Homo sapiens: one gene and its partners. The protein of the gene in region 1 purifies or fractionates together with the protein of each later gene. This does not show direct contact. Each region holds a gene or a part of one and is shown in the gene's direction. Other genes may lie near its edges. The genes, in order: PRPF8, TTC27, DHX15, HNRNPU, SNW1, SF3A1 and DHX9.

The links.
Region 2: the proteins of PRPF8 (region 1) and TTC27 purify together in Homo sapiens (affinity purification with mass spectrometry; 3 studies listed by BioGRID and IntAct, with this or other methods). This does not show direct contact.
Region 3: the proteins of PRPF8 (region 1) and DHX15 fractionate together in Homo sapiens (co-fractionation; 3 studies listed by BioGRID, with this or other methods). This does not show direct contact.
Region 4: the proteins of PRPF8 (region 1) and HNRNPU fractionate together in Homo sapiens (co-fractionation; 3 studies listed by BioGRID, with this or other methods). This does not show direct contact.
Region 5: the proteins of PRPF8 (region 1) and SNW1 purify together in Homo sapiens (affinity purification with mass spectrometry; 5 studies listed by BioGRID and IntAct, with this or other methods). This does not show direct contact.
Region 6: the proteins of PRPF8 (region 1) and SF3A1 purify together in Homo sapiens (affinity purification with mass spectrometry; 4 studies listed by BioGRID and IntAct, with this or other methods). This does not show direct contact.
Region 7: the proteins of PRPF8 (region 1) and DHX9 fractionate together in Homo sapiens (co-fractionation; 3 studies listed by BioGRID, with this or other methods). This does not show direct contact.

What each region holds. Positions count from the first base shown.
Region 1 is NC_000017.11:1,678,033-1,682,108, reverse strand, and holds part of PRPF8 (pre-mRNA-processing-splicing factor 8), read left to right. Parts: intron 1-70; coding exon 71-289; intron 290-418; coding exon 419-631; intron 632-1,054; coding exon 1,055-1,180; intron 1,181-1,277; coding exon 1,278-1,383; intron 1,384-2,309; coding exon 2,310-2,500; intron 2,501-2,698; coding exon 2,699-2,818; intron 2,819-2,902; coding exon 2,903-3,092; intron 3,093-3,227; coding exon 3,228-3,347; intron 3,348-3,456; coding exon 3,457-3,591; intron 3,592-4,076. UniProt on the Homo sapiens protein: Plays a role in pre-mRNA splicing as core component of precatalytic, catalytic and postcatalytic spliceosomal complexes, both of the predominant U2-type spliceosome and the minor U12-type spliceosome.
Region 2 is NC_000002.12:32,630,881-32,634,956, forward strand, and holds part of TTC27 (tetratricopeptide repeat protein 27), read left to right. Parts: intron 1-2,995; coding exon 2,996-3,125; intron 3,126-4,076.
Region 3 is NC_000004.12:24,556,598-24,560,673, reverse strand, and holds part of DHX15 (ATP-dependent RNA helicase DHX15), read left to right. Parts: intron 1-4,076.
Region 4 is NC_000001.11:244,857,971-244,862,046, reverse strand, and holds part of HNRNPU (heterogeneous nuclear ribonucleoprotein U), read left to right. Parts: intron 1-1,572; coding exon 1,573-1,712; intron 1,713-2,672; coding exon 2,673-2,772; intron 2,773-3,205; coding exon 3,206-3,318; intron 3,319-3,772; coding exon 3,773-4,036; intron 4,037-4,076. UniProt on the Homo sapiens protein: DNA- and RNA-binding protein involved in several cellular processes such as nuclear chromatin organization, telomere-length regulation, transcription, mRNA alternative splicing and stability, Xist-mediated transcriptional silencing and mitotic cell progression.
Region 5 is NC_000014.9:77,729,770-77,733,845, reverse strand, and holds part of SNW1 (SNW domain-containing protein 1), read left to right. Parts: intron 1-1,244; coding exon 1,245-1,361; intron 1,362-2,716; coding exon 2,717-2,858; intron 2,859-4,076. UniProt on the Homo sapiens protein: Involved in pre-mRNA splicing as component of the spliceosome. As a component of the minor spliceosome, involved in the splicing of U12-type introns in pre-mRNAs.
Region 6 is NC_000022.11:30,342,956-30,347,031, reverse strand, and holds part of SF3A1 (splicing factor 3A subunit 1), read left to right. Parts: intron 1-512; coding exon 513-720; intron 721-1,841; coding exon 1,842-2,099; intron 2,100-4,076. UniProt on the Homo sapiens protein: Component of the 17S U2 SnRNP complex of the spliceosome, a large ribonucleoprotein complex that removes introns from transcribed pre-mRNAs.
Region 7 is NC_000001.11:182,880,409-182,884,484, forward strand, and holds part of DHX9 (ATP-dependent RNA helicase A), read left to right. Parts: intron 1-88; coding exon 89-200; intron 201-855; coding exon 856-1,017; intron 1,018-1,111; coding exon 1,112-1,239; intron 1,240-2,730; coding exon 2,731-2,960; intron 2,961-3,111; coding exon 3,112-3,227; intron 3,228-4,076. UniProt on the Homo sapiens protein: Multifunctional ATP-dependent nucleic acid helicase that unwinds DNA and RNA in a 3' to 5' direction and that plays important roles in many processes, such as DNA replication, transcriptional activation, post-transcriptional RNA regulation, mRNA translation and RNA-mediated gene silencing.

The sequences.
Region 1 (4,076 bases):
GTGGGTGGTGGTGGTGGTGGTGGTTGGGAGGCAGTGGGTAGAAATGGTTGTGTGATGTCTTGCCTTCCAGGTCAATGTGGATTATGATGCGCCGAGAAAAAAGAGATAGGAGGCATTTCAAGAGGATGCGTTTTCCCCCTTTTGATGATGAGGAGCCGCCCTTGGACTATGCTGACAACATCCTAGATGTTGAGCCACTGGAGGCCATTCAGCTAGAGCTGGACCCTGAGGAGGACGCCCCTGTGTTGGACTGGTTCTATGACCACCAGCCGTTGAGGGACAGCAGGAAGTGAGTGATAGATGGAGATACTACACCTGGGAGGAGTTCTGGAAATGCAGAAGGAGTCCTGGGAGATCAGTAGGTGGTATGGGTTTGTCTAGCTGCTTACTTGAGGTGGGCCTTTCATTTTTTACCTAGGTATGTAAATGGCTCCACTTACCAGCGCTGGCAGTTCACACTACCTATGATGTCGACTCTCTACCGCCTGGCTAATCAGCTCCTGACAGACTTGGTGGATGACAACTACTTCTACCTGTTTGATTTGAAGGCCTTCTTTACGTCCAAGGCACTCAATATGGCCATTCCTGGAGGCCCCAAATTTGAACCTCTTGTTCGAGACATCAACCTACAGTGAGTTGGAGAGATTAGGGATTTTAGACATTTTGAGTTGAATGAAACGTAATCTTGATCCTTAAAGTCCTGATATAACTTCCAAATTAGTCTGTTTACACCAGGTGCAGTGGCTCACGCTGTAATCTCAGCACTTTGGGAAGCTGAGGCAGGAGGATTGCTTGAGCCCAGAAGTTTGAGACCAATCTGGGCAAAATGGCAAAACCCTATCTTTACCAAAAAATGTAGCTGGGCGTGGTGACACTCACAGCTTCGTGTAGTCTCAGTTACTTGGGAAGCTGAGCTGTGGGAGGATTGTTTGAGCCCAGGAGGTCACGGCTGCAGTGAACGATGATCATGCCATTGCATTCCAGCTTGGGTGATAAGAGTGAGACCCTGTCTCAAAAAAAAAAAAGTCTGCTTATTCTTGATGTTGTACCCTAGGGATGAAGACTGGAATGAATTCAATGATATTAACAAGATTATCATCCGGCAGCCTATCCGCACTGAGTACAAGATTGCTTTTCCTTACTTGTACAACAATCTTCCACACCATGTCCACCTCACCTGGTAAGAGACCTGGAACACAACATTTGGAAAGGAGAAGGCTGCTGTTTAGGTTGGGCCAGGGCGGGAAAACTTTGGCTGACTCTTCCTTTCATTTTAGGTACCATACTCCCAATGTTGTATTCATCAAAACTGAGGATCCTGACTTGCCAGCTTTCTACTTTGACCCTTTGATCAACCCAATCTCCCATAGGCACTCAGTCAAGGTGAGGAAGGGAAGGGATGCTTTCCCTCAGCTCTTCTAGGAGAAATGCGTGAGGTTGGCTGATGTTACTAAACGCTCAGGTGGAGGGAGATGTGTTTTCCGTCTTGCTAAGTGTTCCCCTTGAGCTATAAGCGAATATGAGAATTCAGCATTTGCTTTAAAACATGTCATTGGTATAATCCTGTTTTCTGTGATTATCCTTTTGGACTTTACGGTTCTTTTCTTGGGTGCTCTAGATAATCTGTCCCGGTCTGTCTCTATTGTGTTTGTTTGTTTTAGCCTTTATATTGAGATGTAGTTAACATACCATACAAGTTATCCATTTAAAGTGTGTAATTTGATGGTTTTTAGCTTATTCTCAGAGTTGTCCCAACTGTCACGACATGCAATTTGAGAATATTTTTATTACTTGAGAAAGAAACCCTTAGCAGTTACTCGCCATTTCTCCCCAACTTCCTTACGCAACCACTAATCTACTTTCTGTCTATAGATTTGGCTATTCTACACATTTCATATGATAGAATGAAATAGAATCGTACACTATGTAGTCTTCAGTGACTGGCTTCTTAAGCTTACCATAATGTTTTTGATGCTCATCTGTGTTCCGTTGTGTCCAAGCCCAGTGTTTGGAGCTTGGGTGGGAGATGATTGCAATGTTGACCTCCTGTGATGTTGGGGCTCCATTGGGAGGCTTTCTGGTGGTCAGCCAGTTGAGGTGTGAGAAGTGACGCTTGCTTTCCTGGTGGCCCTGTCTTGTTCTTTGCTGTCTTGGTTTCCTTTGTGCTGGCACTTCAGGGCTGCTTTTGTCAGACAGCCCAGTTTCCATAGCAGATACAGGCTTTGTGCTTGGCCCCAGAGAATTTCCCTCATCTTAAGTCTGTGCCTAGTTCAGCAGGAGCTAAACCCTTAGAGGGATTCCTTTTTCAGAGCCAGGAACCATTGCCGGATGATGATGAGGAATTTGAGCTCCCGGAGTTTGTGGAGCCCTTCCTGAAGGACACACCCCTCTATACAGACAATACAGCCAATGGCATTGCCCTGCTCTGGGCCCCGCGGCCCTTCAACCTACGCTCTGGTCGCACCCGTCGGGCCCTGGACATACCCCTTGTCAAGAACTGGTAAGGTTTTTCCCTGTGGCAGGGGGAATGATAGTGGATGTGTAGGAGAAAAGACTCCAACTAGGTGGGCATGTAGCCTTTTTTTTAAATTCTTTTTTTTTTTTTCCCATAAAAATGGTAGACAACCCAAGGCTTGCAGCCTTTAGCAGAGTGTCTGGAAGAAGAGATGGCCAAACTCTGGTGGGCTTATTTTTCCAGGTATCGGGAGCATTGTCCTGCCGGGCAGCCTGTGAAAGTGAGGGTCTCCTACCAGAAGCTGCTTAAGTACTATGTGCTGAATGCCCTGAAGCATCGGCCCCCTAAGGCTCAAAAGAAGAGGTAAGGTGCCCCAGGGGCCCTGCGCAGACTTCTGTTCCAGAGATATCAGTAGGCTGACTCTTACTCTCCATGTTCCCACCTCAGGTATTTGTTCCGCTCCTTCAAAGCCACCAAATTCTTTCAGTCCACAAAGCTGGACTGGGTGGAGGTTGGGCTCCAGGTTTGCCGCCAGGGCTACAACATGCTCAACCTTCTCATTCACCGCAAAAACCTCAACTACCTGCACCTGGACTACAACTTCAACCTCAAGCCTGTGAAAACGCTCACCACCAAGGTGCCTGCATTGGACCCTAGGGGCCTCCTGGGCTTCAAGGACGGACAGTTGTTTTCCTCTGGTTACTGATGAAGGCATACATCAGTTGGGTCCATTGCTCATTCACGTTCTGTCTGTTTTTTGCATCTTCTCCAGGAAAGAAAGAAATCTCGTTTTGGGAATGCTTTCCACCTGTGTCGGGAAGTTCTGCGTTTGACTAAGCTGGTGGTGGATAGTCACGTGCAGTATCGGCTGGGCAATGTGGATGCCTTCCAGGTAAGGTTAGGTATTCCCAACCCCTGCCTGGGTGAGGACGCTGGAGGAAGCCTGTGCTGACCGTGGAGCTGGTTTAAGCTCCAGGTCTGATGGGGCAATTGTATTGCAGCTGGCAGATGGATTGCAGTATATATTTGCCCATGTTGGGCAGTTGACGGGCATGTATCGATACAAATACAAGCTGATGCGACAGATTCGCATGTGCAAGGACCTGAAGCATCTCATCTATTATCGTTTCAACACGGTGAGACCTTGACTTTACTGACTTTCTTTTTTTTGAGACAGAGTCTTACTCTTGTCTCTTGGGCTGGTGTGCAATGGCACGATCTTGGCTCACTGCAACCTCCGCCTCCTGAGTTCAAGCAATTCTCCTGCCTCAGCCTCCCGAGTAGCTGGGATTACAGGTGCCCGCCACCACGCCTGGCAATTTTTTTTTTGTTTTGTTTTGAAACTGAGTCTTTCTCTGTTGCCCCAGCTGGAGTACAATGGCACGATCTTGGCTCACCACAGCCTCCGCCTCCCGGGTTGAAGTGATTCTCCTGCTTCAGCCTCCCAAGTAGCTGGGACTACAGGCGCGCACCACCATGCCTGGCTAGTTTTTGAAATTTTAGTAGAGATGGGGTTTCACTGTATTGGCCAGGCTGGTCTTGAACTCCTGACCTCAGGTGATCCACACTCCTCGGCCTCCCAAAGTACTGGGATTACCAGCGTGAGTCACCGTGCCCAGCC
Region 2 (4,076 bases), on another chromosome or scaffold:
TAAAGTGGTGCAGGATAAAATGGTTTCATATATGAGACTGGCACATATTTTGGTGTTAACTGCAAATGCTTAGGTCTGGTCGGCTTTACCCACCGGCAAAACTTCAGACCTTATTTCCTTTAACTTAAAAACATACTTTCAGGCTGGGTGCAGTGCTTCACGCCTGTAGTCCCAGTGCTTTCGGAGGCCGAGGCGGGCGGATCACATGAGGTCAGGAGTTTAAGACCAGCCTGGCAAACATGGTGAAACCCCGTCTATACAAAAATACAAAAATTAGCTGGGCATGGTGGCATGCGCCTGTAATCCCAGCTGCTAGGGAGGCTGAGGCCGAAGAATCGCTTGAACCTGGGAGGTGGAGGTTGTAGTGAGCCAATATCCCGCCATTGCACTCTAGCCTGGGCGACAGAGCGAGACTCTGTCTCAAAAAAAAACCAAAAAACAAAAAACATACTTTCAATCTTGTTATTTCTGCATAGCTGAGTGCTAATTTGTAACTATTTATTATGTTTTAGATTATTATCTTTATAGAGCTCAGAGAACTTAATGTTTTTGTAAGGAAGCCCTTGGTTTACCTTCTTCCATTAAAGTTTGTGTAATTTTATAGGGTTAAGTATAGCAGATAGTTACACAGCAGGGAAACCTAAGCTTTTCAGTGGCTTATATTTCATTGTTATAAATTTGATACCTCTATCTTTCGTCTACTATCTGTGGCAACCATGTCAAGCTTTAATTATCTTATAAATGCATGCAATTTTATTTTACCATTATTTCTAGGAAATAGCTTCATTTAGTCCTTCAACAAATAAACTATTGTAGTAGATGTGGAGGTTCTGAGGATGAATAAAGCATAACCCATATTCATAAGGAGTTTGCAAAAGAATGCTACTACAGGCTTTTAATTTTATTTTGAAAATTAATATTATTCATTTTCTTTTTTCTTTTTTTTTTTTGATGGAGTATCACTCTGTTGCCCAGGCTGGAGTGCAGAGGCGTGATCTCGGCTCACTGCAACCTCCGCCTCCCAAGTTCAAGTGATTCTCTTCCCTCAGGTTCCCATGTAGCTGGGATTACAGGCCTGTGCCACACCTGGCTCATTTTTTTTGTATGTTTAGTAGAGATGGGGTTTCACCATGTTGGCCAGGCTGGTCTTGAACTGCTGACCTCAGGTGATCTGCCCACCTCGGCCTCCCAAAGTGCTGGGATTACAGACGTGAGCCACTTCGCCCAGCCTCCATTTAATTTTTTTTAGTTTACTGGTAGTTATGTTCCTTTGGTATCATTCTTTTTTTTTTTTTTTTTTAGTTCCTTTTTGTAGAGATGGTGTCTTGATATGTTGCTCAGGCTGGTCTCGAACTCCTGGGCTCAAGCAATCCTCACCTCTGCCTCACTAAGTGTGGGGATTATAGGCATGAGTCACTCCGCCCGGCTGGATTCTCATTGCTTTCTTATATGTGTGCACTCTCATAGCAACTAGCCTTGTGGCACCCATTAAAACAACACATTCACACAAATGCATTATTCACTGATATACCAGATTTCTATCTTGTCACATAAAGCTAAAAAGAGACATTTCAGTTGACTCATTTTCAGACATTTGAAAGTTAAAGTGTATTTTCAGTTCACCTTATGGATTTTGTTTTTTGATTAGGACAGTTTATTAAGGCTGTTTTCTCCAAATTTCCAAACTTCTGATTGCATACCAGCTCTTTTGTTATCTTTTTTCTCTAATGCTGCTTATTTGCATTGCATCCAGAGTTTTATATTTTTGCTACCATAGGCTTGTATGTTTGATTTTTTTTTTTCTTTTTCTGAAAGACTCTTCCTTTTAAGGAAGGGCCTAGGGGCTGTGGGGAAAAAAGTGATTACTAATACTTTCTCTTCAGAATGAAACTCCAGGATTCCCTGGCTGTTATTTGCTAGAGTTGGATCTGTACCTATTTAGATCCTAATTTAGGGTTTGGCACATTATGGCTGGCAGGCTAACTAAGTGGCTAAGAATTAATGGGTTTTACATTTTTAAAGGGTTGGAAAAAAACAAACATGATATGCAAAGCCTAAAATATTTCATATTTAGAAAAAGTTTGCCTATCCCTGTCTCACATCACAGCAAGACTGAAAAATAGAGTTTTCACTAAAATATCTATATGTTTTGTTGTTGTTGTTGTTCTAGCATTTGGTGGTATGGGATTGGTAAACAATTAGCAACAACTTTATATCATCACTTTTCTTTTGTATAAAGTCAGTTTTCTATACATCTTGCAACATCAGAGCTGTTAAAGGGAGTGCAAGAAAAACTTATAGATGTCTGATCAGAACCTAAATCAACACCGTTCAAGATAATTTTCCGTGGAGATAGAAGTGCTCTCTATCTTCATTGCCCACATGGTAGCCACTAGCCACACTTAACTATTGAGCACTTGAAATATGGAAAGTATGACTAAGGAACTGAATTATAAATTTTATTAATTTTAACTAATGCAAATTTAAACCATGTTTGGCTCGTGGCTATAATATTGGATATTGTAGACCTAATTTCTTTTTTTTTTAAGAGAGACAGGGTCTCGCTTTATCATCTAGGCTGGAGTACAGTGCTATGATCAAAGCTTACTACAGCCTCAAACTCCTGGGCTGCAAGCAATCCTCATGCATCAGCCTCTTGAGTAGCTGGGATGTACCACCATGCCGGCTAACTTTTAATTTTTTTGTAGAGACAGGGTCTCACTATGTTTCTCAGGCTGGTTTTGAACTCCTGGGTTCAAATGATCCTCCTACCGTGGCCTTCCAAAGTGCTGGAATTACAGGCATGAACCACTGTGCCTAGCTAACCTAAATTGTTTTAAGTTTTAGAAATTTTTTTTTTTGGTAATACTCTAGGATAGTCTCAATAAATGTTGATAGATATTATTTTCTTAATAAAACTGAAATGGAATAGTGTGTTTGAGATTATACAGTGATAGTAGTTCATATTTATTTCTTTAACCATTCTTATATGCAGACAACAGTTGATATTTCTACTTGGTGTGAGCAGTTTGCAACTTTTTGTTCAGAGCAACTGGACGGGGCCCCCTGTTGACTTACACCCTCAGGACTTTTTGTCATCTGTTTTGTTCCAGCAATTCAGTGAGGTATGCTTCTTGAAAATGTTGTATGTAATTATTATTATGTTATTTATTTTTTATAAGCAGGTCTTTATAAACTGGAACTCATAGTAGGAAAGAAACATGACTTTATGGTTTGCACAAAAGTACTAAGAATGCTTGTTCATTGATCAGATTTTCACAGATTTCCAGAAGTTCCTTTGTCAAACTCCTCTTCATACACACTCCATTTTATGGAGCTGTGTTAGCTGTGTTTTTTAATGAAAGTACAGACAGCTGCACCAGTTGTTTAGTTGGTTGTATCACCTCAGTTACATAAAGATTTTTTTTTTTTGAGATGGTATCTCACTCAGTCATCCAGGCTGTTGTACAGTGGCTGGATTACAGCTCACTGCACCCTCAACCTACTCAGGCTCAGGCGATCTTCCCACCTCAGCCTCCCAAGTAGTTGGGACTACAGTTGCATGCCAACATGTCCAGCTAATTTTTTTGTAGAGATGGAGTTTTGCCATGTTGCCCAGGCTGGTCTGAAACTCCTGGGCTCAAGTGGTCTGCCTGCCTCAGCCTCCCAAAGTGCTAGGATTATAGGTGTGAGCGCTGTACATAAAGATCTTTAATGGCAAAGCAGCAAATCTGGAAATCTGTTTAATTTTATTTCAGGTAAGTTTTTAACTAATTAATTAATTAATTTTTTTTGAGACAGAGTCTTGCTCTGTCACCCAGGCTGGAGTACAATGGCGCGATCTCAGCTCACTGCAACCTCTGCCCCATGGGTTCAAGCAATTCTTCTGCTTCAGCCTCCCTAGTAGCTGGGATTACAGGCGTGTGCTACCACACTTGGCTAATTTTTGTATTTTTACTAGATGTGGGGTTTCTCCATGTTGGCCAGGCTGGTCCCAAACTCCTGACCTTAAGTGATCCTCCCACCTCAGCCTCCCAAAGTGCTGGGTTTACAGGCGTGAGCCACCATTCCCGGCT
Region 3 (4,076 bases), on another chromosome or scaffold:
TTGATAGAATTAGATGTTTCATCATATGCTTTGCCCATATTTCTATAGTGGATTGGCCTTTTTCTTATAGATTTGTAGGAGCTTATAACAGAATTAGCACCTTGGATATAAGTTGCAATTTTTGCTCAGTTTGTCATACATTTCTTTGCTTTATGACACTTCATGCTACATAGAGACTTGAATTTTGTACACGTATTGAATTAACCACTTTTATGATGTCCAGGTTTTGCATCATACCCTGCCCAGTGTTGGTTTAAATAATTTAATCCATGTATTTTACTATTTTGTTTTTGTTTTAAACATTTAACCAAGCTGGAATTTTACTGGGGAGGGATCATAAGCTTTGAGGTAGGGATTTCTGGTTTTCATTTTATAAAAATGATTTTTTGCCTTTCTTAGGCTTAGTTTGTAATTTTTTGGAATGTTTCATAAAATATATATACATATATATAAATACAAAAATATAAATAAGTAATATATTTGCAGGATGTAATGTTTTACCATGGTTTGTTCAAATCAGAATTAGTGATGTGTTAGGTGTCGTCATCTTGCTGAGATCATAGTTGGCAGTTGGCTTGTAGTTATACTACGCCATCTACATGTGCCTGTTGCAAAAAAATACTTAAGCTAGGTTGATACTGTTCAGTACATGGGGTTTTTGGTATATTTTATTAAGCAGTCACAGTTGAAAAGCTGAACTGTTACTTACTCCAAGGATGTTTTTGCTACTTTAGACATCTTTAGGTAATCTGCTTCTTGTTTAATTTGATTAATTTAGACTAGTGTTTCTTAAACTTTAGCAATCATCAGAATCACTTGAAAACTTGTTAGAGCAGATTGCTATGCCTCACCTTCAAAATTTCTGATTAAGTAGATCTGAGATGAGACTCAAGTTTTGTAGTTCTTACTAGTTCCAAGGTGATGCTAATAAATTTTTAAGAGCATCTCTGCCCTAAAACAGTTGGAAAACACTGTAGATAGTAAGGCACCCAGTAAAGTGTGGAGTTTGGCTATCCTGTGGCACTTTTATTAATTCATCATTGAAACTTCAAACTTAAAATTTTACTATTGTGACTCATTCCTTAGCCTGGATAAATATTTCATTACTACTAAGAAAGTTAGTAAAACTTGACTCTTACATAAAGGAAAATGGACTGTAGTTTTTATCTCCAGTGCCTGATTCTGCCTTTCCTGAGTTCTGTGTCAAGTTAGTTTTTTGTTGTTAAGCAAAGGGTTTCATACATTTAACAGTATAGCAAATCGTCAAGTACTGTTTCTTTTTTTTTTTTTTTTTTTTTAGTGGCTTAAAATTGACAAATTCATTCTCTCACAATTCTGAAGGTCAGAAGTTCAAAAACAGTATGTTGGCAGGTTAGTTCCAACTGGAGGCTCTAAGTGGCAATAGTCTTTCATGATTCTCTCCTAGCTTTTGGTGGTGGCTAACAGTCCTTAGCATTCCTTGGCTTGTAGCTTTGTAACCACAGTCTCTGCCTTCATCTTCACGTGGCTTTCCTTTTGTGTTCAAATCTCCCTCTCTTTACATTTTGTAAGGATACTGGTCATTGGATTTAGGGCCCACTCTTAAATTCAGGGCGATCTTGTCTGAAATTTATAACTTAATTACTTCTGCAAAGACCCTATTTCTGAGTAATGTCACGTTGATAGGTACCAGAGGTTAGGACCTGGGCATATCTTTCGAATAGCTTTTTGCTATGAAATTTGTACGTACAATGGGTTCCTTTATCTGGGACTTTGTGAAGAGTGTGTTAATGTAGGAGAGACTTAGGACTGGGAATCAGTACAGTGATACCTAGTCTTAGTAACTGGTTTTGAGAGTCTGGAAAAGTTGACTACGGTTTTTTTCGTTTTCTTCACTGGAAAAGAAGTAAATTTGACTATATCCTTGAGACCTTTGAAATTTTGAAATTTCATTTTTCTTGAAATTATTCATTGTACAAACAGCAGTATCCCATATTAACTGGTGATGCAAGAAGTAATTAAGTGCAGCACCTCATGGAATGGGATCACTGGGTGATGATCAGTATTGAGGAACCATTGGGAATTGTCTGGATGATAGAAGTTTTGGCCATTTAACTAAGTACTTGCAATATGCATAGTTAATAAAGCACAATAAAATATTTCCATTAATCTAATTTATAATATTTATAGTCTGCCATCTGTAACATTTCTTCCCTTAGAAAAATAAAAAGGAATGTCTGTTGGTTAGCTCTGCTCCATATTGTGATTGATTAAAGCTTGAGGAATGTGAGGAGAAAAAAGATCAAAATAAAGAAGGTGACTTTTAAAACTAGTTTTAAGAAGTTTTCAACTTAAAGTCATATTTTATCATTTCTGTGACTTTTTTCTCAAGTTTTTATTGTCTGAAGTTACAATGTGTCTCACAATCTACTGAGGTCTTGTAGTTGGTGGCAGTTTGGTTATTATTGCCTGTGAATGCTTGAACTCGATCTAGCTGTACATATTTTCACCTCAAATAATGTGAATTGTTGGGTCTGTATATACTGAGAGTATTTGCTAATTTAAATGCCTTCAGAAATATTAAATATTACACTATGATTCCATGTTGAAATGAGCACTGAGTATCAAGAGGCTGGGAAATGGAGCAATAGGGTGTAAATATGCTAGTATTTGAGCAAATGTTGGAAGAGTAACCAATCCTTTTTTTTTTTTTTTGCCTTGCAAATCAACAGACCGCTCTATTGAAGCTAAGAGAGGTAACTCACAAATAGAGGAAGCTGTATGTTATGTTCTGCTACTGAGATCATGTACAAGAGTATTGCCTCTCTCGTGTCTGTGATATATCGGAAGACAGGAAAAATTACCAAACGTCCTCAGATCAAAGAAATTTCAAAGCAGCTAAGGGCTATAGTGTTGCTGATTCTTGCACTATGCTTTACTGTCTTTAAGGCACTGAGTCATAATTTAATTGGCAGTGTTTTTTCTTTCCTGGTCTTACATAAAATAACCTTATAGCTAATGCTGTTTGTCCCTCCCAGGAATGTGGTAGTTTATTTTTAAAAATATGACCAAGGACAAGAAGCATAAAGCATATAAATGAGTTAAGATGGATTTGTTTGCCAATAGTTTATGAAATTTAGAATTAAGTTTAGGTGAAATAAAGAGAATTCACTTCTTTTTGTTGTACACTATCAATTTGCTGAACTTAATGCTCCAGCAGATGGCATGAGCTAAAAATATCCAGTTGGTCCATGAAAGATTAGGTTAGACTAATCATAAAAAGAGCCAAAATGGTGAATTCATAAATGATGGCTTCAGATTTTTTAATACCACTTTTAAATCCGTAAATAAAATAATGGGTTTTTATCTAACTGGATGAGCTGTGACTTAAGCATCTAAAGGCATCCTGTGTTTTGTCCAGGTGCCAAAAGGAAGATAGTTGTTTTTCATAGTGACATCAGTAACCAGTGTGGAATGGACAGGAGATAGCTGACCCCTGCAAAGTTATACAATCTTGACCCTTGATCTCATTGCCTTCATTCTTACGTGGCGCCTGTCTTGTGATAACTGGAGTCCATATTAGCAGCCTTCACTTGAGCCATCCCTAACTAAGCCTGGTTTCCCTTTTTGGTTCATTGATCAATCTGACGTCATTTGTTTTTATCTTCCATTTATGTATCAGCATTTGTTTAGTGTTGATGCTGCCCCTCAGTCCCACTTCTTTTATTATTGAATTCCTTTTGTGCTTTAAGATTATTTCTTTGGGGTGGGAGGACTCACGCTTTCAGCCCTTTTGAACCAAGAGCCTGTTGTTAGCTTATTAAGTAAGGAATTGTTAAGGCTTAACAAAAAATGTTTATTTGCATGTGGTAACATTTTAGTGGTGTGACATGAAGCAACTTAAAATGGTTTATTAGATTTTGCGTGTTGAATATTTGTATGTTTTTAAAAGGTTTAAGAAATTGAAAATGACGAATTTTGCCTTGGCATTCATGTGAAACCATGTGATCATTATGTTCCATAATTGGTCATATCATGTCTTCCCAGTACATTTCAGTATTACATTTTTCAAGAATTGATGAAGCATATCTTGTTTC
Region 4 (4,076 bases), on another chromosome or scaffold:
ACACAAGTATATTCCCTATTTTAAAAGATTGTAATATTACTTTTTCAATAACTGCTCTTTTGTTCTCAATTCCAGTTCAGTAGCTGCTGCTTTAAACATAAGTTGATTTCTTCCAAAGACCTGAGGCAGCAGCAGTGGGCTATCACTGGGCCACTAGCTTTCTTCAGCAGCGAATGGTATCAATGGCAGTGCAGCACTGTAAATACTGCTACTTTACCCAGTTGGGTTGCAATTGAGTGAGAAAGTATTGCAAACCTCTAAGTGGGCTTTGACTGTCAGACTTGTTTTTTTTTTTTTTTTTTTTGTTACAAAAAAACGTAGTTGGTTTAGTGATGAGAATGTACAACTCTGGGTGTGATAAATAGACCAAAGGATAAAAATAACTGTTTCAAAAGTATCAGCTATGGTGTCAGCCTGCTGTGTTAGATGGAAGGCATTGGAGCTTAGCTTCTCATGTTTTCTTGTACAAATTGGCTTTATTCAGATTTGTAAGAGTGTCAATGTAAAACTCTTTCTTACTGGAATATCCTTTACAGAAGGTTGAGATAGTCATCTGAGCCTTTTTAAAAGAAAAAACTGCAGGTGAAAAAGGAGTTAGTTGATGTGAAAGTTTTAGTGAAATTCTGGGTTGTATAAATAAGTTGCTAGGAATTGGCAAGGTAGTGAAGTGGTGACTCACACAGGTAATGTAATTGTTAGATTTTTTAGCAAATCAGGAATATGTCAATATAAGTACAATGTTGAATTCAAACAATCTGTTGAATTAAATTCTGTTGATTAGAATAACTCTAATTTAAGAAAAATTCCAAACTGTAGATTTATTTTTCTCTGATCAGTAAAAAGAAAATGAGTTCCAGCTTGACTTTAGCTGTTCAAGTGAGAAGTCTGAGGAAGTGCATGTTAATGAGCCAGTGACCCATAGGTAGCTGGGTTAAAGACACTTTGGATTTGGATAATCCGGGAAGCAATTAATCCCTAATTGTTGAACAGGCAGTCCTGGGTAAAGAGGACCTAAAATGCTGCACTATTAACAGCATTAGACGGCCAGGTTTGTACTTCATAGTTTTAGGCTGTCTTCTTCACAAGTTTTAGAAAAAGAATTTAGGAGCTAGAGCCCTGGTGCAGGATCAACAGCAGCTCATACTCCTATTTTAAAATAATTTGGTCGTGGCCTCCCTTCAGTTTTAATGTGGCACTGGTAAATCTACCTGGTTCTGGCATGCTTCACTTTGATTTCCTGCTATCCTCTACTGCTTGCCTCTAAATCAAGGTAAAGAGCAGAGCAGGTATGTATTAATGTCACATTGTCTTGATTATTTTAAATACTTAAAATATACATGTTAAACCTTGGTATTAGTTTCACAGGCAGTTTACTTTTCAGTACATAATTTAACAGGAGTGACTTGGTGGGAGTGGGGCTTTAAACTGAAAATTGGAACAACAGCATGATGTGGAGAAAAGTTGTGCAGCATTAAGAAGTACATGCAAAAATTAAGTAACCAAGTTTTGTCTACATAGCAGATATGTTTACATTGGATGTCAAAAGTAACACAGTATTTGATATAATTACAGATAATTGTGATCTACATTTTAAAATATCAAGAGATCGTCTCAGTGCTTCTTCCCTTACAATGGAGAGTTTTGCTTTTCTTTGGGCTGGAGGAAGAGCATCCTATGGTGTGTCAAAAGGCAAAGTGTGTTTTGAGATGAAGGTAAATGCAATTTTATGATTTGTTTGTTTGTTTGTGGAGACAGTCTCACTCTGTTCCCTAGGCTGGATTGCCGTGGTGCGACCTAGGCTCACTGCAACCTCCGCGTCCTGGGTTCAAGCGATTCTCCTTGCTTCAGTCTCTCAAGTAGCTCGGACTAGAGGCACACACTACCACACCTGGCTAATTTTTGTATTTTTAATAGAGATGGGGTTTCACCACGTAGGCCAGGCTGGTCGCCAACTCTTGACCTCAGGTGATCCACTGTCTCGGCGTCCCAAAGTGCTGGGATTACAGGCATGAGCCACTGTGCCCAGCCTTTTTTTTTCCTTTTTAAAATAGTGACAAGGTCTCACCATGTTGCCCAGGCTGGTCTTGAACTCCTAAGCTCAAGTGATCTGCCCGCCTGAGCCTCTCAGAATGCTGGAATTACAGGTGCTTCATACTGCTAAGTTATCAAAGGTACTTATTTTTGAAGCTTCCTGTAAATTAAAAGAGGAGCTTGGAACCTTCATTTTGTTGTGACAGTTAATCACGGTTGTTATGTTAGAACTTGCCATGCAGAGCTAGGCGATTTTTTATTTAGGGTACTTCATTTTTATCAAGCATTTGAAAGGGCCACCAAAGAGTTAAAAATAAAATTTGGTTACATTACTGCTTTTGTTGGTGAGAAAAACATTAATTGTATCCTTTAATTGGCTTTAAGTTAAAGACTGACAACATGAACTTTAAAAATATTAAGTATTCTTTTAAATATGGGTCAAATAAGTATTTAACTCTTTAAATTTCAAGTTATAAGCACATCAGTTTAAAGTTCTTACAAATATTGGGGGTGGGCTAGAGTGTGCCTTCTTTGTATTTATAGCTAGAGGAAGATTAGCCCGTGGCGCAATGAAATATGCGAGAGTTAAGGGGTTACCTCCTTGGTGTATTATTTTAATTATTTAATGATTTGACTTTCAGGTTACAGAGAAGATCCCAGTAAGGCATTTATATACAAAAGATATTGACATACATGAAGTTCGTATTGGCTGGTCACTAACTACAAGTGGAATGTTACTTGGTAAAGCTTCTTTTTGACTGATGTGGGCTCATGAATGTTCAGGAGGGTCTGATTTCAGTGTTTTTTAACTAGAGGGCATTCTAAGCCTTTTGTCTGTTTTTATCTATTCTGTTAATACTTCAGACAGGTAATATTAGCACATAGTAGGCACAGGCTACATTTTAGTTTTTGTTCCTTTATTAGAAGTTTATGACCAATGGTTGAAATAAAATCTTACCCGTGATATGCAAATCGTCAACTAATTTGGTCTCTGCGTATATATCCCTCCTAACTTCCATCAATTCTGGTACAGAGATAGAAAAGTAATAGTGTCAGTGACAGGTGATTAGGTTATATGCTTATTTCTCTTGTAGCCTACATCTTAAGTAGTAAAATAGATGAGTCTTTGGACTATTTTAAACATCTACTTCATGAAGATTAATTATTTTCTTAGGTGAAGAAGAATTTTCTTATGGGTATTCTCTAAAAGGAATAAAAACATGCAACTGTGAGACTGAAGATTATGGAGAAAAGTTTGATGAAAATGATGTGATTACATGTTTTGCTGTAAGTTAAAGCTAACTTTCTATGTATAAATGGCAAAGTTAGTAGCTATATCTAGGAACTTTAAAGAAGCTTTACTGAGGTCAGTTTTCAATATGAGCAACAAAATACACCAGTCCCTGGATTAGTGTAAAGACTTCATTCAGCAGTTGAATTGGGAAAACACAGGACATTTTTGAGGAACTCACTAATTCATTTTGACTGAAAACAGTGAACATGAAATTGACCTAGAAAATTCAGTCTAGCTTCTAGGTCAGTATTGTTTCTGGTTCTGGAGATACGTGCTTCATGGTTTACAACCATCAGATTTCTTAACTGTGTAGCCCTTAAAGGCCACCTAATAGTTCTTTAACCTGTAGCTTCCACAGGATAAGCTTTGCTCCTAATTTTAATTCTTAGTTTTTTAGAAAGTTTAAGGAAGCAGATTTTAACTGTTGAATTTTTTTCTGTGTAACAGAACTTTGAAAGTGATGAAGTAGAACTCTCGTATGCTAAGAATGGACAAGATCTTGGCGTTGCCTTCAAAATCAGTAAGGAAGTTCTTGCTGGACGGCCACTGTTCCCGCATGTTCTCTGCCACAACTGTGCAGTTGAATTTAATTTTGGTCAGAAGGAAAAGCCATATTTTCCAATACCTGAAGAGTATACTTTCATCCAGAACGTCCCCTTAGAGGATCGAGTTAGAGGACCAAAGGGGCCTGAAGAGAAGAAAGATTGTGAAGTAAGGGATTTTTTTTTTTTTAACTGTGGCATTTGAATAT
Region 5 (4,076 bases), on another chromosome or scaffold:
TATTGAAATGGGATGCAAAGTTTTAGAATGTAGAAATTCAGTTGTTTAGCAAACATTTTTTTTTCTTTTTTCTTTGGTTTTTTTTTTTTTTTTTTTTTTTTTTGAGACGGTCTCGCTCTGTTGCCCAGGCTGGAGTACAGTGGTATGATCATGGCTCACTGCAGCCTCAACCTCCCAGGCTCAGGCGATCCTCCCACCTCAGCCTCCCGAGTAGTTGGGACCACAAGTGTGCCCCACCATGCCTGGCTACTTTTTTGTATTTTTGGTAGAGACGGGGTTTCACCATGTTGCCAGGCTGGTCTTGAACTCCTGGGCTCAAGCAATCCACCTGCCTTGGCCTCCCAAAGTGTTGGGATTACAGGCTTGAGCTACTGCACCCAGCCTTTTTTTTCTATTTACTAAAACTTCAGGATTCTAAGAATATAACAGATCATTAAGACAGTACAGCAGATTTAACTTCCTATAGATGCTAAGATTATAGTGATTCTACCTTTGTTTGACTGTTAAATTTACTTGAGGAGCAACTGTTGAACTGTTTGACAGTGATTTCCTTTTATTAAAATCGACAATTATTAACACAAATATCTATTTTTCCAGAGCTTGGGTTCTGAAATCCTGCTGAGTTTAAATCCTAATCGCCCACTTACTAACTGTATGACCTTGGGGATGTTACCAAAGCATCAGTGAAATGGACACAATAATGTTAGAAGCTTTATAGAGTTATCGTGAAGGTTAAATGAGACCATAGGTGTAAGTGCTTGATCTTCTACATAAAGCACTCATTGATAGCTGCTGTTGTTTTGCATCATTGTGAAGAAAGATGCAAGGAAAAAGAACCTCCAGTTAAGTGGTTCTCAAAATGTGGGCATATTTAAATTTAATTTTAGCCAGGCTCGATGGCTCATGCCTGTAATCCCAGCACTTTGGGAGGCCAAGGGCGGATCACTCAAGGTCAGGAATTCAAAACCATCCTGGCCAACATGGTGAAACTCCGTCTCTACTAAAAATAGAAAAACTAGCCGAGTGTGTGGCGCACGCCTATGGTCCCAGCTACTCGGGAGGCTGAGGTAGGAGACTCGCTTGAACCCAGGAGGCAGAGGTTGCAGTGAGCCGAGATGGCACCCCTGCCCTCCAGCCAGGGTGACAGAGCAAGACTCCAGCTCGAAAAAAATAAAATTAATTTAACTTCAGACGATTAATTGAAGCACTTCTGTGACTGGGTTTTCTGTCTGCTTTCACTCTAGGGTTATACAATTCCATTAGACAAACGTCTGGCTGCTGATGGAAGAGGACTACAGACAGTACACATAAATGAAAATTTCGCCAAATTGGCAGAAGCCCTCTACATTGCTGATCGGAAGGTTGGTTTGTTATAATTTGTTTAATGCTCTTGTTACTTTTAAAATCCATTCTTGGTTACCTAAGGTACTGATAATTTAACTATAGTACCGAGCACCCAAAGAGAGTCTCACCCATGGTACGTGTGTCAGAAATGGCAGCTGCTAGTTGGCAGCTCTCTGCATGCTCCCAGCTTTTGTAGATGTGTACATACACCCCACAGTGGTGATCCGGCTCCCTCACAACATGTCAGAATAATGGTTTCCTAGGATGATCCCATTTTTTGAAGATTGCTAGGTTTCATAATTTTTGATTTCAAATTTTCCTCTATTTTAGATGTAGATGTCCCCCAAAAGGGCAGTTGCAGGAAAAGGCAGATAAACATTCTAATGAATTGAATAGTACATAAAATGGCGTTCATAGCATTGGCCATCTATTAATGTTACATAATGTATTAAATATTATGGAATTAGGCTGGGCACAATGGCTCATGTGTATAATCCCAGCATTTTGGGAGGCCAAGACTGGTGGATTCCTTGAGGTTGAGAGTTCAAGACCAGCCTGACCAATGTGGTGAAACTCCATCTCTACTAAAAATACAAACATTAGCTGGATGTGGCATGCACCTGTAATCCTAGCTACTTGGGAGGCTGAGGCAGGAGAATCTCTCGAACCCAGGAGGTGGAGGTTGCAGTGAGCCAAGAACGCACCACTGCACTTCAGCCTGGGCAGCAGAGTAAGACACTTCATCTCAAAAAATATATGTAAATATAAATATTATGGAATTAATATGTGATATTGAAGTTCACATGCATCATAGCATGTGTTTGGAACATAAAAAAAATGTCTTTTGTATCACAGTGAGTACCCTTATAAAAATTATCTAGCAGATGTAAGTTAAGATTTTATCTTGAGTTGACTTGATTAACTTTGAAAGTGTTATTAATTTTGAAAATGTTATTTTTTTGAGATGGATCTCACTATGTTGCCTAGGCTGGTCCCAAGCTCCTGAGCTCAAGCAGTCCTTCCACCCTGGCCTCCCAAAGTGCTAGGATTGCAGGAGAGAGCCACTATGCCTGGCTTTAATTTTGTTCTTTAGATTGTTTCTGAGAAAGCATTAGTGAAATACTTGACTTACAAGATTAATTGGGGTCACGATAGTTTCAATCACTAAAATATTCCCAGAGAAAAAAGCTGACCTTGCAGTGTCTTCCAGGCAGGATATCTTTTAGTGGACAAGACTCTTTGTTTTAATTAGCAATAACAAATCTGAATTCTGTATAATTGCTCTTACCAGCCAGATGTTAGGGAGTTGGATGATAGCCATAAATATTTATCCCATGATAGTGTCCTGTTTAACATGTGACTTTACCAACAGGCTCGTGAAGCTGTGGAAATGCGTGCCCAAGTAGAGAGAAAAATGGCTCAGAAAGAAAAGGAAAAACATGAAGAGAAACTTAGAGAAATGGCCCAGAAAGCCAGGGAGAGAAGAGCTGGGATCAAAACTCATGTGGAAAAAGGTATGACATTCTCATTACTGAATTGAATTTTGCTTGGTGAACAAAATATATCTTATTTTAGAAAATCTTTTTCCTACTGCATATAAAGTAGGTACATATAAACAAAATTTAGATACATCAGATATAGTGTAGAAATGGAGAGTAATCTCTGCCTTAGTAAGCTGAAGCAACAGGAGATAAGAAAAAAGTGGGTCTTCAGTTTGGGACTGTACCAGAAATTTTTAAACTTCTGAGCAGTGTACTTTTCAAAATTGCATTATTACTCAAATGATAGGCTTGATTTTCTCTTATCTTAATCTCAAAACTTAAGAGAAATTAGGTATCTAACAGAATAATTCAGCTCCCTCATATGGTGAAGTAATCCAGAGTTTTTCTATCTTGTAGGCTCCAATGCATTTCTCATCATTAAATCTGCCAGTATTTTCTCTCTGACTTTACTTAGTGGTCTACATTGGTGTATTAATTCAATTAGAGTGGGAAGTCGAGTCCTAAGTATAATTCAAGAAATTTTGTGAGGGTGGTTATTTTTTTTTCATTACTAAATTCTTACCTGGTACATTTATTCATTCTTTCATTTATTTAGTTCATATTGAGCATCTGCTGTGTGCAAGGTTCTCTTTTAGACACAAAGTGTTTTTGCTAGACAGTGGGTAGGGGGATGGGATATAACAGTCAACATTCTGGTGAGTGTAGACAGACAGAAATTAATCATGTAGTATAGTAAAAGGTAATAATTGCTGTGGAGGAAAAATAATACAGGGAAAGAGGATATAAAATTGCCAGAAGGTGAGAGTGGTCAAATAGCCCTCACTTCTGAGATGGTGCTGTTAGCAGAAATACTTGAAGAAAGTAAGGAAGCAAACCATGTGGATTTCTGGGGGAAGAGCATCCCACACAGAAGGGCCAGCAAGTACATGGCTCTGAAATGGGAGTATGCCTAGTGTGGCCCAAGGAAGAGCAGACAGGCCAATATGACTGGATTTGTATGAGAAAGAAGGGGATAAGTAGGAGATGAGGTGTCAGAATAGTTAGGGCAGGTGGGAAGAGTAGTGGCCAGATCATGTATGGCCCTTTAACCTAAAGATAAAGCTTTTACTACAAGTGAAAAGGGAAGCAATTGCAGGGTTTTGAGCAGAGTAATGACCTGACATACTGTTTTCCAGCTTTATTGAGGTACAATTGGCAAATAAAAATTGTATAAAACATACAACATGATGT
Region 6 (4,076 bases), on another chromosome or scaffold:
GGTGCTCATGTACCTTTTACACCTCTCCAGCACTTGCTACCCCTTTGAACTAAGAGAATTAGTCTCAGCAAACTTCCAGCTAAACTTTGACAGTATTACTTTGTTTTCATTATGTTCACTTTTGACTACCTTTTGTTGGTAAAGGCATACTGATTTTTTTTTATTTGAAGTAGTAATATGTATTCTCCATCTTAAATAGATTTTTTTTAAAGTAAATTTTATTAAAAGAAATGAGCGATAGCCTAGATGGTTTTGGAAATGGCAGAACTGGAAAAGGAGCTAAGGAATGACTGGGTTCAGGGAAACCCTGTGGCAGAGGTGGCCTGGTTCAAGCTGAATGAGGCAGATGGCACTGATCGCCAATGCCAGGAAGCTAGAGGAGGACGTCTGCTGAGGGATGGGCTGGTTTGAGCAGTGGGTGGTGGCAAGAAGGACGTTCCAATGGGCAGTGTTCTAGATCACAGCAGGCACAAGGGAGTGGTGTTTATTCTTGTTGTTTTTTCTTCCTCCAGAAACGGGCCTGAATTTGAAGCTAGGATCCGACAGAACGAGATCAACAACCCCAAGTTCAACTTTCTGAACCCCAATGACCCTTACCATGCCTACTACCGCCACAAGGTCAGCGAGTTCAAGGAAGGGAAGGCTCAGGAGCCGTCCGCCGCCATCCCCAAGGTCATGCAGCAGCAGCAGCAGACCACCCAGCAGCAGCTGCCCCAGAAGGTTTGGAGCCCAGTGCCCCCTTCACTTACGCAGGGCTTGAGAGGGAAACAGGGATAGGGAGGGAGTACACAATTAACTCCAAATCTCACAACCACCCAGGGAGAGAAGTGAGGTCGTTATCCCCATCTCTCAGAGGCAGACCGAGGCCCAGACAGCAAAGTACTGATGTTAGTTGGCATTTCCCGAGCACTGCTTGTCAAGCTCTGTGCTTGGTACTTCAGGAGTCTTGTCTCATTGACTCCTCACAGAGGCTGTATGAGGAACCTGAGAGTTGGGGGACGTGTGATTTATTCAAGGCCTTGCTCAGGGTGTGAGGGCAGTGCCGTGATGTGAGGGCAGCACTTCCTACTTGGCTGTGCTGAAGGATGCAGTGTGGCCTGTGGGCTCCTCCTTGTGCCATCCCTTCCCTTCTATCTCTTCTTCCCAGGACCCCTCCATCCTGGCCTCCCCTGATACCACCTTCCCTGTGCTGAGGCCCAGCACTAGGGACTATTAGGATTATGAATGAAGAGAGAGGCTGACATGTTTTTCCTCCTGTCCAGACCTGCCTTCTGCACTCCTGAACCATGGTGGAAAAGGCAGTCCCTCCTTTTGCAGTGGGCTATAAAGGTTGAAGTCAGGTTCTAAGACCTTGCGTTGCAATGAGGCCTAGGACCTCAGGCTACCTCAGTTTCTTCATCTGTAAAGAGGATTCACAGTACCTGTGCTACCTCATCGTTCATGCGGAGGTCATGGAAACACTTTGTACAGTGGGGTTTTCTGCACACATGTAGGCCTTCTGCACATCCATCCCTCTTGGATGGGATTTAATAAGTCCTATTCTTGTTGGATCTTCTGTCACCCAGTTTTGGCCCTCAATTTCAAGGCAGGAGCAGAGATACAGAGGGGAATGGTTCTCACTCAGCCATTCAGGAAGTTGAGGCCATAGTTGGCTGGGAAGTCAATGCTCTTGTGATTTAGAATTCTCTCACACCAAGTGCTAGTGGTGTGTGCATAATTAACAGAAGTCTAGAGGTTCACAGCATCCTGCTGAGGGGTGCATGCCCATGTCCCCTCCCCTCCCCTCCCCTGGAGCCTGTTCACCCCTGTGCCTCTCGCCTCATACTCCCTTTGCATCTTAGGTCCAAGCCCAAGTAATCCAAGAGACCATCGTGCCCAAAGAGCCTCCTCCTGAGTTTGAGTTCATTGCTGATCCTCCCTCTATCTCAGCCTTCGACTTGGATGTGGTGAAGCTGACGGCTCAGTTTGTGGCCAGGAATGGGCGCCAGTTTCTGACCCAGCTGATGCAGAAAGAGCAGCGCAACTACCAGTTTGACTTTCTCCGCCCACAGCACAGCCTCTTCAACTACTTCACGAAGCTAGTGGAACAGTACACCAAGGTGCCTGGGCAGGATGGGGCTGGGGTCCTGGGCCCAGGAAAGGAAAACATCTTATGCTTGGAAGCACTGTGTCCACTCACTGTCTACAAGGACATCGCTTCTCCATGGGGCCTCTGAGCAAATGTTTTGAATCCCAGTTTAATGTAAAACCTTGATTTCTATTCAGTTATTTCTTTAAGTGCAACACAGACTGCCGGTTTCTAAAGAGAAGGGAAATACATGCTTGCTAACTACCATTAGGCGATTGCCTGCTATGTGACAAGGCCACGTGGTGCTTGCTGCTTTTAAGTGCATTTCCGTTTTCAGTTGCCTAGTAAGGCCCTGAGAAGAAGCCAACCTTTAAGAGTTGCCTCCTTTTACCTAACTTAGTCCTCACAAGAAGCCATGAGGTGTTTTCCCCCCATGTTTGAGAAGCAGAAACAGGCTCAGAAAGGTGAAGTCACGTACTCAAGGTCTGTCAGCTAGTAAGTACTATGCTGAGATTTAAACCACATTTGACCCTAAAACTTTGGTTCTTCAGCTTATAAAGTGCCTTAAATTGGAAACAGCATTTAAATAGGTGTTGAGAGACACTTTGATGTCATGTAAGTCAGTATAACTAACATCACTAAGAAATTATGTATGCAGCATCTTCTCATTTAATCTCCGGTAGCCTATAAGGTAGCCACTATTGCTATGTTCACTTTACAGAAGAGAAAATTGAGGTGCAGTGAAGTTAGCATGGCCAGGGTCACATAGCTAGGAGGTGGCAGGGCTGGGGCTTGAGCTCTGGCATTTTTACTCCAGACCCTAAGAACTCAATTATCATTTGACAGAGCTGCAATCAAGAATCAGGACAAGTCAGTTCTGGCATTTAAAATAATCAGATTATTAATTTATTGCAAAGTGCACTGACAGCTTTGCCTGTGGCACATTTTTCTTGCTACACATGTCATGGAGGTTGTTTTCCTTCCCTTTACAGTGGGATGGTCTGTACATCTCTTCTTCATATCCAGAAACAACACCTCAAAGATCTGACTTGAAAGGACTTGAGAATTTCCTAACTCTACTCACTTTTAAGTACATAATTAGAATTTTAACAATGTGTGTGTTTAGAAAATGACCAAATCCAGAAGCTAGTATGGTAGCTAAAATAACAGTCATTCAAGGCCCAAGGCCCAAGGGTTTCTATAAATATGCAATATCAATTTTAAATGAACCCTGGATTAATTTCTCCCAGTGGACTGCTTCCAGGGTTAAAGGTCCCAGATCACTTTTTATTCTGTTACTTTCCTGTTTTTTCTTCAGAACTTGGGTATTGGCATTTACCACTGTAACTTGAGGTTCCTGCTGTCTGTTCTAGCCATGGAAGACTGAGCAGATAGATTCTTGGGGTAGAGGTGGAAGGAGGATTGGGATAGGGCCGAGCCACTTTGCCAGTGGCAGTAGAAGCTGTTGGGGCTGTTTAGAACAAAGGCAGCATTTGTTCTCTCAGTAAGTATACATTGTCAGACATTATTCAGGGGGCTGGAGATGTAATCGTGAACAAAAGAGAAATCCCTGTCTTCATGGAGTTTCTAGTCTAGTGAGGAGGAGTCAAGTGCATTGTCAGTGTCTGTTACATGGTGCTAAATACTACAGAGAGAAAGCAGGGAGCAGAAATAGAGGGAGGTGGGGCAAGTACGCTGCGGTTCTGAATAGGATAGTCAGGGGGGACCTGCGTAGTGTTTTTGAAAGGATGAGAGCAGGTCAGTGTCATGAAAGCAGCCGTCTCATACTGACCGTGTTCTGGGTAATCGGCTAGTGCTTTGCATGCTTTCCTGCTAATCCTCGAAGCCACCTTTTTAAGTTCATGGTGCCAACTTTGAGTGGTGGTGCCATTATTTTGGAGAAGGAAATCAAGTTACTGAGGTTAAGTAACTTGCCCTAAGTCCCACAGCCAAGTGGAGCTGGGATTGGGACACAGAATCCCATGCTTCCTCATCTCCTGTGCTTTAT
Region 7 (4,076 bases), on another chromosome or scaffold:
CTGTCTTAACCTTAATTTAGAGTAATGTTTTGTCTGCCTAAAATTAGTGTTCATTTGTTTCTGCTCACAAAGAACTATCTCCCCACAGAGCTTGATGCATTAGATGCCAATGATGAGTTGACTCCTTTGGGACGAATCCTGGCTAAACTCCCCATTGAGCCTCGTTTTGGCAAAATGATGATAATGGGGTGTATTTTCTAGTAAGTGCTTTGTTTTATTTCTCTTCGTTAAGTGGCAGAATAATTTCAGAATCTTCTCCTCCCTGTAAAAGCAGTATTGGCTCAGATAGACAAAAAAAAAATCCTAAATGTTCTTCAGGGAAGTAACATACCTAGATATTGAGAGCAGTGTAACACTAAAAAAATGAACAGTTCCAGTAGGTGGATATCTGGGCCCAATATGGGGAAAAGGGCACTGATTTCTCAAAAGTTAAAAGCAAGCAGGCCAGGCAATGTGGCTCACACCTTGAATCCTAGCACTTTGGGAGGCCAGGGTGGGAGGGTCCCTTGTTATTAATAGTTGGTCTTGAAAGAGCGGTGTCAGGAAAAGAGGTTTATTTTATCAGAAAATGTTGAAGATTAAGAGATTTGGTATGATGGGGAAGAGAGAATATAAAAGGAAAAATATACTTGGTCATAATTTATGATAAATATGTGGCCATTAGAGCATCAGAGCATTTTTTTCTTTCTGATTCTGAAGAGAGCAGCTATAAAGTTCTTTGTTAAGCCAGTTTCATTGCAAATAAAAGTAGAATCATAGCCATAAAGACTGCAACCCACAGTCGACAGTCCTACCTGAGCTGCTGGCAACAACATTGTGATCTAGTCTGGATTTAACTGTCTTTGTGTATTTCAGCGTGGGAGATGCTATCTGTACCATTGCTGCTGCTACCTGCTTTCCAGAGCCTTTCATCAATGAAGGAAAGCGGCTGGGCTATATCCATCGAAATTTTGCTGGAAACAGATTTTCTGATCACGTAGCCCTTTTATCAGTATTCCAAGCCTGGGATGATGCTAGGTATGAGTAAGATTTGGGTGAGCTGTCTGTAGTTTCTCATTTGTATTTAGTTCTCTGGTCTTAGAGAATGATTTCTCATGCCAATTTATTTTAGAATGGGTGGAGAAGAAGCAGAGATACGTTTTTGTGAGCACAAAAGACTTAATATGGCTACACTAAGAATGACTTGGGAAGCCAAAGTTCAGCTCAAAGAGATTTTGATTAATTCTGGGTTTCCAGAAGGTAAGACTTCTTCCATTCTTAAGATATCTTTAAAGTGACATTTATATAGTACATGCAAATTGACAGCAAAGTGTATTTTAGTTTCAAATTTTAGACCCTATGATTTTTATATATTCCCGACTATTTCTTAGTTCTCGTGAACACTGGTCTAGTTCCCAGAATGAGTACTTTGCTGATAACCTTATAGTGGTTTGCAAAGTAATTTATTAGCATTTAGACTTGAAGTAAATTCTACCACATTAAATTTTAAATGACTTTAATTTATACTTTCGGTGTACAGATGATTAAAGGACTTTATGACATCTAACATAGAAAAAAACCAACCCATGTTTCTTGATGAGCTGTAGTACTTTTCTTTTCCAACTAGGTTAAAATATAGAATTACTTCCTAAAACATTGAGAACTGGAATGCATAACCAGAAATAAGACTGTTGAGAGACAGAAGGTAGTTGGGCAAGATGGTAAATTTTTAAAGGCTGTAATTGGAATAACTAAACAAAGTAGTGAGTGGTTCTCTTCTGTCATAAGCCAGCCGAAATTTTAGTTTTTCCTCAAAATTATAAGAAAGGGAAAACTTCATGTGCTAGAATCTTGAGATGAATTTTACAGGTAATGAAACAGGCACCAAGGTATAAATTGTCTTTAATTCATCCAATTAGGAGGCTATAAGACTAGAACTCGTTTGTCTAGAACAAAATATGTCTGTGCTTTCAGCGGTTGACTGTCATGCTTTCCAGTCAGTAGCTAAGTACTCAAAGTGTAGACTGGGTAAAAACGTCAGCCTTCATTCCAGTAGGTGTCCTCTTAGATTATCTCCATCTTCTCTACAACTAACAGCTATTTAAGAGTAGCAGATAAATACTTTGTGGTCCTATCAGTCAAGCTCTTATTCTCAGAGTAGATGGTTGATTGGGGGACTTTAAAAAGTAATCACCCCGGCCGGGCGCAGTGGCTCACACCTGTAATCCCAGCGCTTTGGGAGGCCGAGTCAGGTGGATCACGAGGTCAGGAGATCGAGACCATCCTGGCTAACACGGTGAAACCCGTCTCTACTAAAACTACAAAAAATTAGCCGGGCGTGGTGGCGGGTGCCTGTAGTCCCAGCTACTTGGGAGGCTGAGGCAGGAGAATGGCATGAACCCGGGAGGCAGAGCTTGCAGTGAGCAGAGATGGCGCCACTGCACTCCAGCCTGGGCGACAGAGCGAGACTCGTCTCAAAAAAAAAAAAAAAAAGTAATCACCCCAAGCTTATTTATGGTTGAGTCTATAAGAGAATAGAGACGTTTTCGTTTTCTTATTGTGGAAACTCAGTAACATTACTCCTTGAACTTAATCTGGGTGTAAGGATTCTGAGAAGAGAAAGTTTTACAGACAGGTTATGTGAAAAGAGTGAGGAAGAGTCAGTTCTCTGAATTATCTTAAATAGTTTGCATGTAATGTGAAGATCAGCCAGTTATCTGATTTTTGTTTTCACTGTGCTCCTCTTAACAGATTGTTTGTTGACACAAGTGTTTACTAACACTGGACCAGATAATAATTTGGATGTTGTTATCTCCCTCCTGGCCTTTGGTGTGTACCCCAATGTATGCTATCATAAGGAAAAGAGGAAGATTCTCACCACTGAAGGGCGTAATGCACTTATCCACAAATCATCTGTTAATTGTCCTTTTAGTAGCCAAGACATGAAGTACCCATCTCCCTTCTTTGTATTTGGTGAAAAGGTAAGAAAAGACTAGAAAAGTTTACATTGAAAGTTGAAATTGTCTTTACAATCATTAGGAACATGAATTTTGATTTTCAAAGCACAGTATATAGCGGTATTTGGAAGTTGGAATGTCAACCATTTTGTATTGTCTCTTTCTCCATTTGCAGATTCGAACTCGAGCCATCTCTGCTAAAGGCATGACTTTAGTCACCCCCCTGCAGTTGCTTCTCTTTGCCTCCAAGAAAGTCCAATCTGATGGGCAGATTGTGCTTGTAGATGACTGGTATGGATTTTCAGATGTGAACTCCAAACTGAATTCTTAGAATTACAATATGATGGAATTCAGCTGCTAATCTAACTTAATTATATACTAATTATATCTAACTTAATTATATACTATATACTTAATCTTAAATTGATACCAGTAGAAGCAAATGCATTAGGAATTTGAGCCATGTCTACCACTAGGCACACCACCACTATGGAATCAGAATCTAAGTGAAGCTTGAGTACCCTTTCACATACTCTGTATATTGATTCAAAACTAGTGGTAAGCACTGGGCAAAAATGGAATAGAGCTTAATGGACAGCCAGTAGGCTCAGCCATCATATTCTTGAAAACCTAGAAAATGCCAGTATTCTGGGTCTCTTAAATTCATTATTTTAAAGTCTGGATGATCTGGCTGGGTGCGGCACATCACTTGGGCTCAGGAAGTTCAAGATCAGCCTGGACAACATGGTGAAACCTGTCTCTACGAAAAATCCAAAAAAATTAGCCCCGTGTGGTAGCGCACACCTGTAGTCCCAGCTATTCTGGAGGCTGAGGCAGGAGAATCACTTGAACCTGGGAGTTGGAGGTTGCAATGAGCTATCACGCCACTGCACTCCAGCGAGGGCAACAGAGCAAGACTCTGTCTCAAAAAAAAAGAAAGTCTGAATGATCCATATTGCTGGACTTTGTTTTTTGTTTATTATATATTGCATATATTTTTATTATATTTTATTTGGCTTGATAGACTTTTTGGCTTAAGACTCCTGCTCATAGCTAGCAGTGAATTTTAAGAAGCTAGTGCTGATTATAACTACTCTTCATATCTGTGTTTGCCTAAGTTTGGGGCCATTATAAGTAGTT